Linked DNA regions of Homo sapiens: region 1 is linked to region 2. The links come from fine-mapping of genetic effects on gene expression. Tissue or cell type: whole blood. Region 2 holds a variant in brackets; the other region holds the start of a gene. All regions are shown on one strand. Distances are between the middles of the regions.

Region 1 (8,475 bases), 93 kb before region 2:
TTTCTTTTTCTCTTATAACATTTTTAAATAATCCACTCCTTATAATCTCTCTCCATCTTTCCAATTGCCTCTCTGTTTTTGTCTCCCATCCATCCTCTCCCCACCTCCCCCAGCAGAATAGAGTGTTCCTCATTTGTGGTTTGATATTTCCTTATGGTTAGATTTATGTATGCATCTCTCGTTAGAATATTGCATAAGTGATGTGTCCCTCTTGGAATATCACAGGCAAAGTCACATGGTGCTCATCTGTTTCTCACTGATGATGTTAATGCTGGTCAAGGTGTTATCTGATTTCCCCACTGTGTATAGTTACTATGTTGTTATTTTTTTTTCTTGCAACTGATAAGAGGTCTATATTGAGATATACTGCCCCTCATTAAAATTTATCTCCTACATTGAGCAAAAGAATTCTCAAATTGTTTGCTAAATTTTTTTTTCCAGGAACACAAGTCCACTTTATTTACCTTTCATTAGTTTAAATCTTTAAGGGGTTACAGCATCTATGTCCAATGGCCTTAGCAGAAGGATCGCTTTGGAATTTGGCAAAAACCATGCCAATGTTTCCTTGGGCCCAAGTTACCTTTCTCTAGAATACTCTGATTTTGTTTGGTTTGCTGCCAGGAGTCACTTGTTGTTCTTTGCTTTGTGTGCGTAAGCACATTTATTGCCCAAATAGAATTCAGTTTCATCTTGGGCATAAACACCTTCAGTTTTAAGAAGATTTGTGTGCTCCCTTTGGTTCCAGAGACCCTGCTTATAGCGCAAAAATGGCCTTGGATGACAGCCTTCCAGAAATACTTGCCTTTTAGAAGTCATGTTCCAAGCAGGCCTCGACAGGCTTCATGATGGCAGGAAGAGCTGGATTATTTTTAATTGCAAATCCCATTTCACATTTTCATTCTCTTGATTTTAGTTCCATCAGTGACTTTTAAGGTCCATAAAATCAGTAACTGCTGTTATTATAAGCCATTCTTTATATGTAAACCAATCTTGATTGGTTTATATATAGATGGTATATATCTAAATACATATAGGCTGGACGCAGTGGCTCACACCTGTAATCCCAGCACTTTGGGAGGCCAAGGTGGGAGGATTACTTGAACCTACTAGTTCAAGACCAGCCTGAGCAGAATGGCAAGACTCCGTCTTTACAAAAATAAGAAAAAGCATGGTGGCATGCACCTGCAGTCCTAGCTACTCAAGAGGCTGAGGGAAGAGGATCACTTGAGACTGGGAGGTCGATGCTGTGGTGAGCTGTACTCACATTGTTGCACTCCAACCCAGCCGACAGAGCAAGACTGTGTCTCAAAAGAATACATGCATCCATACAGATGATGTATATTTAAAAGAGCTAATGGAACAATTGCTCTGTTATTTATACATTCTTGTTTTTGTATGGGGAGAATCTGAATGGAAAAGAGAATAGTTGTGTATTAATACCAGAAGCATGAGATGATTTGAAGACAAAGGCAGTGTAAAAGAAGGTTCAGCAACAAGAATGAGAGGAAAACAGCTCAATGAGTCAATTTCCTGGAAAGAAATAGAAGACTAATTTAAGAGGTTGAGCGTAGTGTTCAGTAATAGTTGTAATGAACATTAGTAATCAGAAAAGGATAATGAGGAATCATTGTTGATCAGTTGTCTCTAAGAACAGCAACTCCTAAATGAACAGAAAGACTAAACTTTGTTTTGCTGGAGATAGGAATTTTTTTTTAAACCATTCAACCTGAGAGTTACAGTGTACTATTTATATTTGCTTGTTTTGTTGAAGTCAGTTTAGTTTCCTTCAGTTTTTAGAATGTGAGAAGTGAGATTTTATTTTGTCATTTTTCCTTAATACAGTTTCCTAAAAATTTTACCTTTGCATCCTAATAAGTGTTCTTTACTGCTTTGGATATTTTTGGCATAAAGAACAAAATTAATTCATACTCTGGTTATATTACTTTGTGGGTTTTTTCTCTTTAATTTTATTTTTATTTCAAAGGACCCTTTCTCTGAATTTTTCCCAAGAAATTGAAAAATCCATGGGACAAGCTTCATATCACCTTGTATATTATTGGAAGTACTAAACAAAATGGACCTGAGAAACATAGCCCCTACCTCAAATTCATATCATTTCTGTCACTTGTTTTGTTTTCCATTTTTAATGCATAAAATAGCAATAACAGTAACCAGCCATAATGGATAGGTGTAAGAATCATAAGTCATTTTGATAACGATCTGCTATCCAGTATGCATTGCTGAATTTTTAGTCATAGAAAGATAATGCTAGGTATTATTTCAGCTTTCTAATATGGACATAATTCATATTATTTCTAAAGTAATTGTTGATGTGAAATGAAACTGCTTTAATATCAAAGGAGAGTTGTATACAATTATATAACTTGATATTTTAGGAATATTATCAGGCTATTAGTAATATTAATAAAAGTCAGAATTAGAAAGCTTAAGCAACTAGCTTAAAGTTAATGAAAGAAAGTTAATGACTGAACAATATATAATATAAACAATTTATATCCGATTCTTTAAATTCTTGAAAAATGACGTTAAAAAATTCTCCATTTTTGTTCTAAAAGATTCAAACTGATACAGATATATATAGGGCGAAACATCGCCTCTTTTACTCTCCCCAATTTTTCTTGCAAAGATAACCTATGTCAGTAAGTTGGTATGCAGCTTCTTAACATCTTATAACCCAACACAACCAATTAGTGCGTTACTACTAATTAGTAGCTTACTACCAATTAGTACCTCACGTATTAAGTAGTACTCAGTATTTTTTGCAACCAAAAATATTTTGAAAATTTTAAAAAGAGCACTGGAGGATAATATAACAACATTTATGTTCATTCTAAATTTTTTCCCCTATTTTTATTAAAGGAATAAAGCATAAAGTTTAAGTCTTCAATGCGTATTTAACACAACATAAATATTTTATTCATTAAAAAGTTTACAAAAAATTGTATTACTCGATATACATCTTATTTGAACTAGCCTTTTCCATTCAGTAGCTATGTTGTTTGATAGCTAGAGTCTGTTGATTGATATTTGGGTTCTGAATAACTAATGTTTTCAAGTATCCTTTAAAAACTATTATTTTTATATTATAGGAGATATTTCAATGTGTATATTAGGAAAACTCTAACTGCATTCTGAAAAAATAAGTTCCTGAGATTTCCGTTCAGCAATACTTTTGAAACACAGATAAAATTACTTCCTGTCTCTTAGCTTCCTGTATCCATGGCAACCTCTGTTTTACACATTGACTGTAAAGGAACCAATGTGAAGAGTGGTGTTTCCTGAGCAAACGGTGACTTAAAAAAAAAAAAAAAAAAGTGGTGGGGTGGAGGTCAGCAGTGCCACAGAACAAACTGGAGTTAAGAAATGTCGTTCTTCAGATTTAAAAAGAAAACCTTTACTGAATCAGCTGAGTGTTAATAATACGAATTTCCTTTTCTTGGTAAGATTATTTACTTAAATATGAACTTCTAGCTGACATGAAAAATAGTTCTGTGAAAAACTGTAATTTAGAATTTAATTGTTCTGTAGTGAATTTGTATTTTCATAAATTATAATGTTATTTGATATTAGACTTTATGTTGTTAAAGGGACATATTAAATTCAAAGATTCTCATTCCTACATCATTTGTCACCTGTGTTGTAATCAATTGTAATTTTTAAGTTAACTTAGCAAATGTTTCATTAATCTGAACTATTTTGTCAAATAGTGGGTTAATGGCCTGATCATGTTAATAATTCTAGAACGTATTCCATACTCATTATTTTTTGCTATTACCATGGTATGATTTATGATAGTATTATTGGCTGATCCTAATTAAAATAGAATACAGAAGTTATAGTATTATAAAAAAAATTCATTTGATGAAGTTTTCGTGATTTAAAGCTTTACCTTCTCTTTTTATAGCCAATTCTGATCTGAACAGAAAATCCAAGAACAGGGATATGTGTGGATTACAGTTTTCTCTGCCTTGCCTACGACTGTTTCTGGTTGTTACCTGTTATCTTTTATTATTACTCCACAAAGAAATACTTGGATGTTCGTCTGTTTGTCAGCTCTGCACTGGGAGACAAATTAACTGCCGTAACTTAGGCCTTTCGAGTATTCCTAAGAATTTTCCTGAAAGTACAGTTTTTCTGTATCTGACTGGGAATAATATATCTTATATAAATGAAAGTGAATTAACAGGACTTCATTCTCTTGTAGCATTGTATTTGGATAATTCTAACATTCTGTATGTATATCCAAAAGCCTTTGTTCAATTGAGGCATCTATATTTTCTATTTCTAAATAATAATTTCATCAAACGCTTAGATCCTGGAATATTTAAGGGACTTTTAAATCTTCGTAATTTATATTTACAGTATAATCAGGTATCTTTTGTTCCGAGAGGAGTATTTAATGATCTAGTTTCAGTTCAGTACTTAAATCTACAAAGGAATCGCCTCACTGTCCTTGGGAGTGGTACCTTTGTTGGTATGGTTGCTCTTCGGATACTTGATTTATCAAACAATAACATTTTGAGGATATCAGAATCAGGCTTTCAACATCTTGAAAACCTTGCTTGTTTGTATTTAGGAAGTAATAATTTAACAAAAGTACCATCAAATGCCTTTGAAGTACTTAAAAGTCTTAGAAGACTTTCTTTGTCTCATAATCCTATTGAAGCAATACAGCCCTTTGCATTTAAAGGACTTGCCAATCTGGAATACCTCCTCCTGAAAAATTCAAGAATTAGGAATGTTACTAGGGATGGGTTTAGTGGAATTAATAATCTTAAACATTTGATCTTAAGTCATAATGATTTAGAGAATTTAAATTCTGACACATTCAGTTTGTTAAAGAATTTAATTTACCTTAAGTTAGATAGAAACAGAATAATTAGCATTGATAATGATACATTTGAAAATATGGGAGCATCTTTGAAGATCCTTAATCTGTCATTTAATAATCTTACAGCCTTGCATCCAAGGGTCCTTAAGCCGTTGTCTTCATTGATTCATCTTCAGGCAAATTCTAATCCTTGGGAATGTAACTGCAAACTTTTGGGCCTTCGAGACTGGCTAGCATCTTCAGCCATTACTCTAAACATCTATTGTCAGAATCCCCCATCCATGCGTGGCAGAGCATTACGTTATATTAACATTACAAATTGTGTTACATCTTCAATAAATGTATCCAGAGCTTGGGCTGTTGTAAAATCTCCTCATATTCATCACAAGACTACTGCGCTAATGATGGCCTGGCATAAAGTAACCACAAATGGCAGTCCTCTGGAAAATACTGAGACTGAGAACATTACTTTCTGGGAACGAATTCCTACTTCACCTGCTGGTAGATTTTTTCAAGAGAATGCCTTTGGTAATCCATTAGAGACTACAGCAGTGTTACCTGTGCAAATACAACTTACTACTTCTGTTACCTTGAACTTGGAAAAAAACAGTGCTCTACCGAATGATGCTGCTTCAATGTCAGGGAAAACATCTCTAATTTGTACACAAGAAGTTGAGAAGTTGAATGAGGCTTTTGACATTTTGCTAGCTTTTTTCATCTTAGCTTGTGTTTTAATCATTTTTTTGATCTACAAAGTTGTTCAGTTTAAACAAAAACTAAAGGCATCAGAAAACTCAAGGGAAAATAGACTTGAATACTACAGCTTTTATCAGTCAGCAAGGTATAATGTAACTGCCTCAATTTGTAACACTTCCCCAAATTCTCTAGAAAGTCCTGGCTTGGAGCAGATTCGACTTCATAAACAAATTGTTCCTGAAAATGAGGCACAGGTCATTCTTTTTGAACATTCTGCTTTATAACTCAACTAAATATTGTCTATAAGAAACTTCAGTGCCATGGACATGATTTAAACTGAAACCTCCTTATATAATTATATACTTTAGTTGGAAATATAATGAATTATATGAGGTTAGCATTATTAAAATATGTTTTTAATAATTTGTGAACAGTGTATTCATTTAGCAAATATTTTCTTTGATATATACTGTATTAAGTAATAATAGCTAACATTTCTGTGTATCAAGCACTGTGCCAAATATTTCACATTTCACATTTAATCTGTGAATAGTCTTGAAAGGTGGCACTATTTATACTTTACAGGTGAGGAAACTTAAAGTTTAAGTAACTATGCCAAATTCTCACAGCTTGTAACACTTTTTGGGCCTCTCTGACTAGAGTTCATGCTTTCAGTTTTATACTATATTGCTGCTTTGGTTCTAGGATTGTGATATGAAAAAAATAGACGTGGTTCTTATTCTAGGTAGAGCTTGAAATTTAGAGGAGGAGATATATGGTTACTGCACAGTGCGATGATAAGTACTGTACTTGGAGATGCTGTTGAGTATAACATTTGTGGAGGTGAGAGATGGCTTTATGAAGAAAGTGACATCAAAACTGGATCACGAAGAATAAATAGAAATTAGCCCAGTGAAGAGAGCTGAGTAACATCGTGTCAGAGGGGTTAACAGAAGAAAACCTGCTGCTTTTCAGGAACTAAAATTCAGTACAGCTGGTGTCGTGAATGATGGTGTGCGATTTAAAGCCCGAAAGAGAGATCAGGTGATGAAAGCTTTATAGTTACATGCTTTATCTTGAGGGCAACAGAGAGCCATTGAAGGATTTTTAAGCAGTAGAGTGAAATGATTAGATTTACCCTTTAGAAATTTCCCTCTTTCTGGAAGGAACAATAAAACCGGAGCCAGAATTAGGTGAGTAGGAATCTGAATTGCTAATCCAGGGGAAAGATGCTAGAGGCCTGGGCCAGGATACTGGCAAAAAGGATGGATGGATCCAGAGGTACTTTGAAAGTAAAATGAACTGCCTTGGTGATTGGTTGAGGCGTGGCAGGGGAGGGAGAAGTCAAAGATGTTAGGTTTTTGGCTTAGGCAGTTTTGTGCTGTATTCACTAAGCTAGGGAAAGAAAAGGGGTGGGGCAAAATAATGAGTCAGTTTTAGACAGATTGAATCTGAGGTTCTTATTAGATCTCCACATGGAAATATATATCATGCAGAAATTCAGAAGCGAGGTCTTATGGTAAAGGCCAATATTTCTTAAACTTTCATCTGTCCAGTACACTGGAAATGTATGATGCACCCTTTACAGTAACAATAACCATTTAAGCTGTGGTTTTGGGAGATAGGTAAGTGGGGAAGAATAAGACCTTGTAGAAGTTGAGAGAGTCCCTAGGAGATATTAGTGCCCTTGATTAAGAATCTTTAATATAGATGGTAATTGAAGTCATAGAAGTAATATAATGGTTTTCTTTATTAGCAAAAATTTGTACTTGCAGAATATTTGTACTGCAGAATATTAGGGATTATAGTAAGTGCCTATGCTTGTTGGTTAGTTAATAGTGACCTGAACCACAAATATGTATTTAAAATTTTTTCTTAATATATTTGAGAGAAAATCAGAAAGGAGCTGAAAAGTAATTTTAAGATATATTAGAAATTGCATAAATAAAGCCCCACCAACCCCAAAGGGTTTTCAAACAATGGTTTGCTTTTCCCTGCTTAGCTGAATGCCTTTTTGGGGATTATAATTTCAGCAGAAAATGTGAATATATTTAAATAAACATTATTTTTCCTAAGTAATTTGTTTTGTTATGGAAGAGCAATCTTTTTGTTCACCTTGAGAGACATTTTTAATAATGTATTTTTTTCTTTGTTGTATCCTCCCAACTCCTACAAATCCAATTATGTTTTTTCTTTAATTACTAAAAGTACTTGTTCATTGGGAAAAAATTTAAACAGTGCAGAAATACATAAGGTAGGCTGAAAACTTCTCCATGCCTCCCTTCCTTACCACCTAAACCGTACCCTCTTAAAGATGTTCACAAGCAACACAGCTGGCTATGTGAAGTTCAGGAAAATTTATATAACAAAGTATTTTTATCTTAAAATTCCTAAATTCAAAAAAGGCAGTTCAGAAAATCTATCAAAATTTTTGCTTTTTGAAAGTATAGCTTCTAATTGATTTAGACTCAACTAGAAAACCAATTATATTAATATCAATTTATATATGGAGCCATAGTTCTATACAGTGGTATTCATTAAATGTTCATTTCAGTCTTTGTCAGCTATTTCCTTTTAAAAAATTTTTCTTTTTTTACTAATCAAAAGAGAGCTGGAGTAAGTAGCTACCCCCTTGAAAAATGTTAGCCAGCTCATATTTCACCGTTGTTTGGTAGTTGTACAGTTAAAAAACTTATTTAAGGTATAATTGAAGTGTTACAGGCATAATAATTTTCTTGGGTACAATTTCTGTATTTCATTGTTTCACATTTTGAGCAGCCCTAAGTTAAAACTAAATGATATTCTAAATTAATATAGCTAAGGAAGCTCACCTTTCTTAAGATTTCTGTATTTCTCTACCATTTACTACAGGTTCTTATCTCTACCATTTATTAAAAGTTCTTGATTAGAGCACCCAAAAATAGGCT
Region 2 (8,475 bases):
TATACCTAATGTTAAATGATGAGTTAATGGGTGCAGCACACCAACATGGCACATGTATGCATATGTAACAAACCTGCACATTGTGCACATGTACCCTAAAACTTAAAGTATAATTAAAAAAAAAATACTCCATGTCAAACATAAATTGTAGCTCTGAGAATGTGAACTATATTGCTGGTGAACTTTGTCCTAGGCTAAAGTCTTTCCCTCCTTCAGTCTTTTATTTACATTCTCACTTCTTTTCTTCTATTCCTGTGGAATGTTGCCAAATGGTGCTCCTATATTTAATAATATTAAGTTTTAAAAATCCACTACTTTAACACGTCTAATTTTCTGAGAGTTATCTTTTTGTTCTTGTCCATATGCACATAGATTTTTACATAGTTGTTTTCTTTTTTTTTTTTATTATACTTTAAGTTTTAGGGTACATGTGCACATTGTGCAGGTTAGTTACATATGTATACATGTGCCATGCTGGTGCGCTGCACCCACTAACTCGTCATCTAGCATTAGGTATATCTCCCAATGCTATCCCTCCCCACCACCCCCCACCCCACCGCAGTCCCCAGAGTGTGATATTCCCCTTCCTGTGTCCATGTGATCTCATTGTTCAATTCCCACCTATGAGTGAGAATATGCGGTGTTTGTTTTTTTGTTCTTGCGATAGTTTACTGAGAATGATGATTTCCAATTTCATCCATGTCCCTACAAAGGACATGAACTCATCATTTTTTATGGCTGCGTAGTATTCCATGGTGTATATGTGCCACATTTTCTTAATCCAGTCTATCATTGTTGGACATTTGGGTTGGTTCCAAGTCTTTGCTATTGTGAATAATGCCGCAATAAACATACGTGTGCATGTGTCTTTATAGCAGCATGATTTATAGTCATTTGGGTATATACCCAGTAATGGGATGGCTGGGTCAAATGGTATTTCTAGTTCGAGATCCCTGAGGAATCGCCACACTGACTTCCACAATGGTTGAACTAGTTTACAGTCCCACCAACAGTGTAAAAGTGTTCCTATTTCTCCACATCCTCTCAATATCCAGAATCTACAATGAACTCAAACAAATTTACAAGAAAAAAGCATACGTAGTTGTTTTCACGGTACTCACAAAACTTTGAAGTCTGCTTTTCTCATCTGATGATATTTATAAACATTTTATATGTCCACAAATATCCCATAAACACCAATTTTTAATGAATGCATAATTCATTATAATCAAACTAGCCATAAAACTATTAAGTTATTTTCTTATTGCTAACATTTGAATTGTCTCTGTTTTGGGTTGTTGAATGTGATGCTATAATATATGCTTTTTTACATAGACTCAGAACTGGAATTATGTGGTCAGAGGTAAGAATATTTTCATAGCCAAAAAGATATATTGCCTGAATATTTTTCATCAACAATGCCACCAGCAGTGTATATCATTTTTACCCCACTCTTACTAACACTGAGCATCTAACAGCTTTCACTCGCAAACAAGTGTGCTTGTACCAAGAAAGTGTTGTTAAAGTAATGACAGATCATTTCTGAGTGTTATGTGGAATTATAATTTCCCAAATTGGAAAATTTCCCTTTTTCATTTTACACTAAATTAGTAAAACCTATAAGTACTATAGCTTTAATTTACATAATAGTGCTTTGCATAATAGGTATTCCATATTAACTGATTGATTTAATTGTATATCCTATAAGATAATAATCATGGTACCCTACAGCGGAAAAGGGAAGTGGAAAAGAGGGATATAAAAGGGGTGATGAGGAGGGAAAATGTGGGTGAGATGTCATCAGATTACACCAAAGGGAAAACCAGGAACATCTCCTCCAGGGACAGGGTCATAACCCTATCCACTAGTACTCTGAACATAGCCAAGTCTGTCCACATCTATTCCTGACTCCAGAACTTGACTCTCCCCACTCTTTCCCTCCCTCCACCCCCAACATCCCTAATGACTGAGCTTCCCCTTCATTCCTTCTCTCCTGGTTCGACTTGCCCTATCACCTGTGCTCGCTTATTCCTTAAGGTGTACGGTGCAATCCTCAGCCTTGTGAGGGATGCAAGGATTAACCATGTGGGCCCTGCCTTTCTGGAGTTCGAAGTCTGATAGGAGAAGACATGAATAAACAGCAGAATGTGAACAATGCCGTAAGAAGGCTACAGATGGGGTGCTTTGGGAGCTTTCTTCCAGAAGTGGCATTGAGACTGGACTGGGAGGCCCTGAAAGAATTTGGACATTGGATCTGACACTGTCCCCCAGCTTACCAGGATCCTCCGTGCTCTCCAGATCCCTACTGCCTCAGTCACCAAGCCGGGTCCCCCCAAAGCTGAATATGCCAGAGGGGCATGCAGAACGTTTGAAAACTTACCAGACATTATTTCCCTCTCAAATTGCAAGATGGTTTTGCTGTTTCCTATTTTATTTCTTTTTGATATTTCCTTTTTTAGTGAAGTGAAACATATCTTTTAAAAAGTGAGTGTGCTTGAACTGTGTGAGGCAGTACAAGGGGTGCCAGTGTAGTCCCCAGGTATGTGAGAGAAGGCAGCTGATTGGACTGGTCCATGCCTGTACCTTATCGATCTTTGTGCTTTACTGACCACTCTCTGTGCTGGACCAGTTGTTAGAGATTTCAGTTAATGTTCCTGGGAGAAGGAACATTGGGCATTTCTTGTAATGTAAGGAGAATGCAAGTGACTAGGTGATCAGTCTATGATGTTAGGTGACCAGGGCCCTGGAGCCAATTGTGATGCCTCATCAGAAAAGAATGTACTTGCTGAATGTGTGAGAATTGGATTATGTGCTCTTTTCTTTTTAGTTATTATCTCTTTAGTTATTATTGTCTTTGCTTAATTCTCTTCTGTGCCAACCCAAGCCTCTTCAACTATTTCTCTTTCTGTAATTGCAGAGCTCTGTTAGTCCAAGTTGGACTAACAGTTGATCCTTTCACAATATTTACCACATTTACCAGGCTGGCTGAATATTATAGAATTAGAGAGATGTCATCCCAAGTGATGCAGTGTTGGAGGGAGAAGCTCAACCCCCTGAAGACTTCTAAATGTTTCTAAATGCATGTTTAATTTCAGAATACATATTGTAATTGCTAAATTGTTATGACAAGACATAGACAGACATATTTATCTTCCACTTTTCCAAGTTTTAATAATCACGGTAATGAAGTTGTTGTATATCCTCCCCACCCCTAAAGAGACAAAAGGGCATCCAGGGAGTGGATCCCACTCACACCCAAATGAACTCTTAGATTACTGAGGCCAGACTGGTTCTTACCTAGCTGTCCTCAGAACACCATGCCTAGAACTTTCATGTTTAGGGTTTGACCACACAAGCCATTGGTCAGTTGGGTTTCCCATAACAATCAAGGAGCTCTGGTTGAGAGAGTTGTGCACCTTTCATGGGATGGGCTTAGAGTGAGGTCAGGCTCCTAGTCAGAGCGTCTGTGATGCATCTTGAGTTTTCGTTACTCTCAGTCTATTCATCTGAAACCAGTCCCCCTTCCTATTCTGCCATTTAGGAAAATCGTAGATGGTCTGTAAATTGAATCTATGCCCAGTGGTCCTGAGTAGTGAGATTTATTCAGAATATAATTAAAACAGATATAATATGCCCCTTCTGCCTACCATAGGACCTGATCGCTTGCCCAAAAGGCTCTGGAGTCAGGAGTGACTTTGGGCATAGAGAGAGTAATTTTTCAAGTCATTATTTTCCTGGGGCTTGGAATATGTGGATGTTGTCAAATAACTTTTTTTTTCTTTTTGTCAAAACTAGTTCCTCTTTGGGGATATAACCTGACACTATAGTAATTCTGTGTTCCTTGGACTCTCTTTTAAGCACTACATGAACTAAAGAATGATTAAATTCTGATTCTTTTTTTTTTATTATACTTTAAGTTTTAGGGTACATGTGCACAATGTGCAGGTTTGTTAC[A/G]TGTGTATACATGTGCCATGTTGGTGTGCTGCACCCATTAACTCGTCATTTGACATTAGGTATATCTCCTAATGCTATCCCTCCCCGCTCCCCCAACCCCACAACAGGCCCTGGTGTGTGATGTTCCCCTTCCTGTGTCCATGTGTTCTCATTGTTCAATTCCCACCTATGAGTGAGAACATGTGGTGTCTGGTTTTTTGTCCTTGTGACAGTTTGCTGAGAATGATGGTTTCCAGCTTCATCCATGTCCCTACAAAGGACATGAACTCATCCTTTTTTATGGCTGCATAGTATTCCATGGTGTATATGTGCCACATTTTCTTAATCCAGTCTGTCATTGTTGGACATTTGGGTTGGTTCCAAGTCTTTGCTATTGTGAATAGTGCCACAATAAACATCTGTGTGCATGTGTCTTTATAGCAGCATGATTTATAATCCTTTGGGTATATACCCAGTAATGGGATGGCTGGGTCAAATGGTATTTCTAGTTCGAGATCCCTGAGGAATCGCCACACTGACTTCCGCAATGGTTGAACTAGTTTACAGTCCCACCAACAGTGTAAAAGTGTTCCTATTTCTCCACATCCTCTCCAGCACCTGTTGTTTCCTGACTTTTTAATGATCGTCATTCTAACTAGTGTGAGATGGTATCTCATTGTGGTTTTGATTTGCATTTCTCTGATGGCCAGTGATGATGAGCATTTTTTCATGTGTTTTTTGGCTGCATAAATGTCTTCTTTTGAGAAGTGTCTGTTCATATCCTTCACCCACTTTTTGATGGGGTTGTTTGTTTTTTTCTTGTAAATTTGTTTGAGTTCATTGTAGATTCTCGATATTAGCCCTTTGTCAGATGAGTAGGTTGCGAAAATTTTCTCCCATTCTGTAGGTTGCCTGTTCACTCTGATGGTGGTTTCTTTTGCTGTGCAGAAGCTCTTTAGTTTAATTAGATCCCATTTGTCAATTTTGGCTTTTGTTGCCATTGCTTTTGGTGTTTTAGACATGAAGTCCTTGCTCATGCCTATGTCCTGAATGGTATTGCCTAGGTTTTCTTCTAGGGTTTTTATGGTTTTAGGTCTAACATTTAAGTCTTTAATCCATCTTGAATTAATTTTTGTATAAGGTGTAAGGAAGGGATCCAGTTTCAGCTTTCTACATATGGCTAGCCAGTTCTCCCAGCACCATTTATTAAATAGGGAATCCTTTCCCCATTGCTTGTTTTTGTCAGGTTTGTCAAAGATCAGATAGTTGTAGATATGCGGCATTATTTCTGAGGGCTCTGTTCAGTTCCACTGGTTTATAGCTCTGTTTTGGTACCAGTACCATGCTGTTTTGGTTACTGTAGCCTTGTAGTATAGTTTGAAGTGAGGTAGCGTGATGCCTCCAGCTTTGTTCTTTTGGCTTAGGATTGACTTGGCGATGAGGGCTGTTTTTCGGTTCCATAGGAACTTTAAAGTAGTTTTTTCCAATTCTGTGAAGAAAGTCATTGGTAGCTTGATGGGGATGGCATTGAATCTATAAATTACCTTGGGCAGTATGGCCATTTTCACGATATTGATTCTTCCTACCCATGAGTATGGAATGTTCTTCCATTTGTTTGTATCCTCTTTTATTTCCTTGAGCAGTGGTTTGTAGTTCTCCTTGAAGAGGTCCTTCACATCCCTTGTAAGTTGGATTCCTAGGTATTTTATTCTCTTTGAAGCAATTGTGAATGGGAGTTCACTCATGATTTGTCTCTCTGTTTGTCAGTTATTGTTGTATAAGAATGCTTGTGATTTTTGCACGTTGATTTTGTATCCTGAGACTTTGCTGAAGTTGCTTATCAGCTTAAGGAGATTTTGGGCTGAGATGATGGTGTTTTCTAAATATACAATCATGTCATCTGCAAACAGGGACAATTTGACTTCCTCTTTTCCTAATTGAATACCCTTTATTTCCTTCTCCTGCCTGATTGCCCTGGCCAGAACTTCCAACACTATGTTGAATAGGAGTGGTGAGAGAGGGCATCGCTGTCTTGTGGCAGTTTTCAAAGGGAATGCTTCCAGTTTTTGCCCATTCAGTATGATTATATGCTGTGGGTTTGTCATAGATAGTTCTTATTATTTTGAGATACGTCCCATCAATACCTAATTTATTGAGAGTTTTTAGCATGAAGGGTTGTTGAATTTTGTCAAAGGCCTTTTCTGCATCTATTGAGATAATGATGTGGTTTTTGTCTTTGGTTCTGTTTATATGCTGGATTACGTTTATTGATTTTCATACGTTGAACCAGCCTTGCATCCCAGGGATGAAGCCCACTTGATCATGGTGGATAAGGTTTTTGATGTGTTGCTGGATTCAGTTTGCCAGTATTTTATTGAGGATTTTTGCATCAATGTTCATCAAGGATATTGGTCTAAAATTCTCTTTTTTGGTTGTGTCTCTGCCTGGCTTTGGTATCAGGATGATGCTGGCCTCATAAAATGAGTTAGGGAGGATTCCCTCTTTTACTATTGATTGGAATAGTTTCAGAAGGAATGGTACCAGCTCCTCCCTGTACCTCTGGTAGAATTTGGCTGTGAATCCATCTGGTCCTGGACTTTTTTTGGTTGGTAAGCTATTAATTATTGCCTCAATTTCAGAGCCTGTTATTGGTCTATTCAGAGATTCAACTTCTTCCTGGTTTAGTCTTGGGAGAGTGTGTGTGTCGAGGAATTTATCCATTTCTTCTAGATTTTCTAGTTTATTTGCGTAGAGGTGTTTGTAGTATTCTGATGGTAGTTTGTATTTCTGTGGGATCGGTGGTGAAATCCCCTTTGTCATTTTTTATTGCGTCTATTTGATTCTTCTCTCTTTTCTTCTTTATTAGTCTTGCTAGCAGTCTATCAATTTTGTTGATCATTTCAAAAAACCAGCTCCTGGATTCATTGATTTTTTGAAGGGTTTTTTGTGTCTGTATTTCCTTCAGTTCTGCTCTGATCTTAGTTATTTCTTGCCTTCTGCTAGCTTCTGAATGTGTTAGCTCTTGCTTCTCTAGTTCTTTTAATTGTGATGTTAGGATGTCCACTTTAGATCTTTCCTGCTTTCTCTTGTGGGCATTTAGTGCTATAAATTTCCATCTACACACTGCTTTGAATGTGTCCCAGAGATTCTGGTATGTTGTGTCTTTGTTCTTGTTGGCTTCAAAGAACGTTTTTATTTCCTCCTTCATTTCGTTATGTACCCAGTAGTCATTCAGGTGCAGGTTGTTCAGTTTCCACGTGGTTGAGTGGTTTCCAGTGAGTTTCTTAATCCCGAGTTCTAGTTTGATTGCACTGTGGTCTGAGAGACAGTTTGTTATAATTTCTGTTATTTTACATTTGCTAAGGAGTGCTTTACTTCCAATTATGTGGTCAACTTTTGAATAGGTGTGGTGTGGTGCTGAAAAGAATTTATATTCTGTTGATTTGGGGTGGAGAGTTCTGTAGATGTCTATTAGGTCCACTTGGTGCAGAGCTGAGTTCAATTCCTGTATATTCTTGTTAACTTTCTGTCTCGTTGATGTGTCTCATGTTGACAGTAGGGTGTTAAAGTCTCCCATTATTATTGTGTGGGAGTCTAAGTCTCTTTGTAGGTCACTAGGGACTTGCTTTATGAATCTGGGTGCTCCTGTATTGGGTACATGTATATTTAGAATAGTTAGTTCTTCTTGTTGAATTGATCCCTTTACCATTACATAATGGCCTTCTTTGTCTCTTTTGATCTTTGTTGGTTTAAAGTCTGTTTTTTCAGAGACTAGGATTGCAACCCTTACTTTTTTTGTTTTCCATTTGCTTGGTAGATCTTCCTCCATCCCTTTATTTTGAGTCTATGTGTGTCTGCACATGAGATGGGTTTCCTGAATACAGCACACTGATGGGTCTTGACTCTTTATCCAATTTGCCAGTCTGTGCCTTTTAATTGGAGCATTTAGCCCATTTACATTTAAGGTTAATATTGTTATGTGTGAATTTGAACCTGTCATGATGATGTTAGCTGGTTATTTTGCTCATTAGTTGATGCAGTTTCTTCCTAGCCTTGATGGTCTTTACAATTTGGCATGTTTTTGCAGTGGCTGGTGCTGGTTGTTTTTTTCCATGTTTAGTGCTTCCTTTCAGAGCTTTTTTAGGGCAGGCCTGGTGGTGACAAAATCTCTCAGCATTTGCTTGTCTGTAAAGTATTTTATTTCTCCTTCACTTATGAAGCTTAGTTTGGCTGGGTATGAAATTCTGTATTGAAAATTCTTTTCTTTAAGAATGTTGAATATTGGCCCCCACTGTCTTCTGGCTTGTAGAGTTTCTGCAGAGAGATCAGCTGTTAGTCTAATGGGCTTCCCTTTATGGGTAACCCAACCTTTCTCTCTGGCTACCCTTAACATTTTTTCCTTCATTTCAACTTTGGTGAATCTGACAATTATGTGTCTTGGAGTTGCTCTTCTCGAGGAGTATCTTTGTGGCGTTCTCTGTATTTCCTGAATCTGAATGTTGGCCTGCCTTGCTAGATTGGGGAAGTTCTCCTGGATAATAT

What was found. PIP is the estimated chance that this variant, and not a neighbour inherited with it, causes the effect.
Region 1: LRRC70 starts here. The variant in region 2 is the best candidate, but not a certain one, in a credible set for the expression of LRRC70 in whole blood (INTERVAL, PIP 0.51).

Annotation. Positions count from the first base shown.
Region 1 is chr5:62,575,476-62,583,950 of GRCh38, forward strand. It overlaps LRRC70 (leucine rich repeat containing 70), which reads left to right and starts at 3,344. Exons shown (of 2, transcript NM_181506.5): 1 at 3,344-3,460; 2 at 3,926-5,971. The coding sequence starts at 3,964. The coding sequence ends at 5,832. All of the region lies in intron 27 of IPO11 (importin 11), which reads left to right. IPO11-LRRC70 (IPO11-LRRC70 readthrough) reads left to right here and starts at 3,260. Exons shown (of 4, transcript NR_073584.1): 1 at 3,260-3,460. It also overlaps the pseudogene RPL35AP14.
Region 2 is chr5:62,668,909-62,677,383 of GRCh38, forward strand. No RefSeq gene overlaps it. Among named protein-coding and RNA genes, the nearest start is that of LRRC70, 94 kb to the left of the region's middle. The variant A/G (reference allele first, on the strand shown) is at 3,955.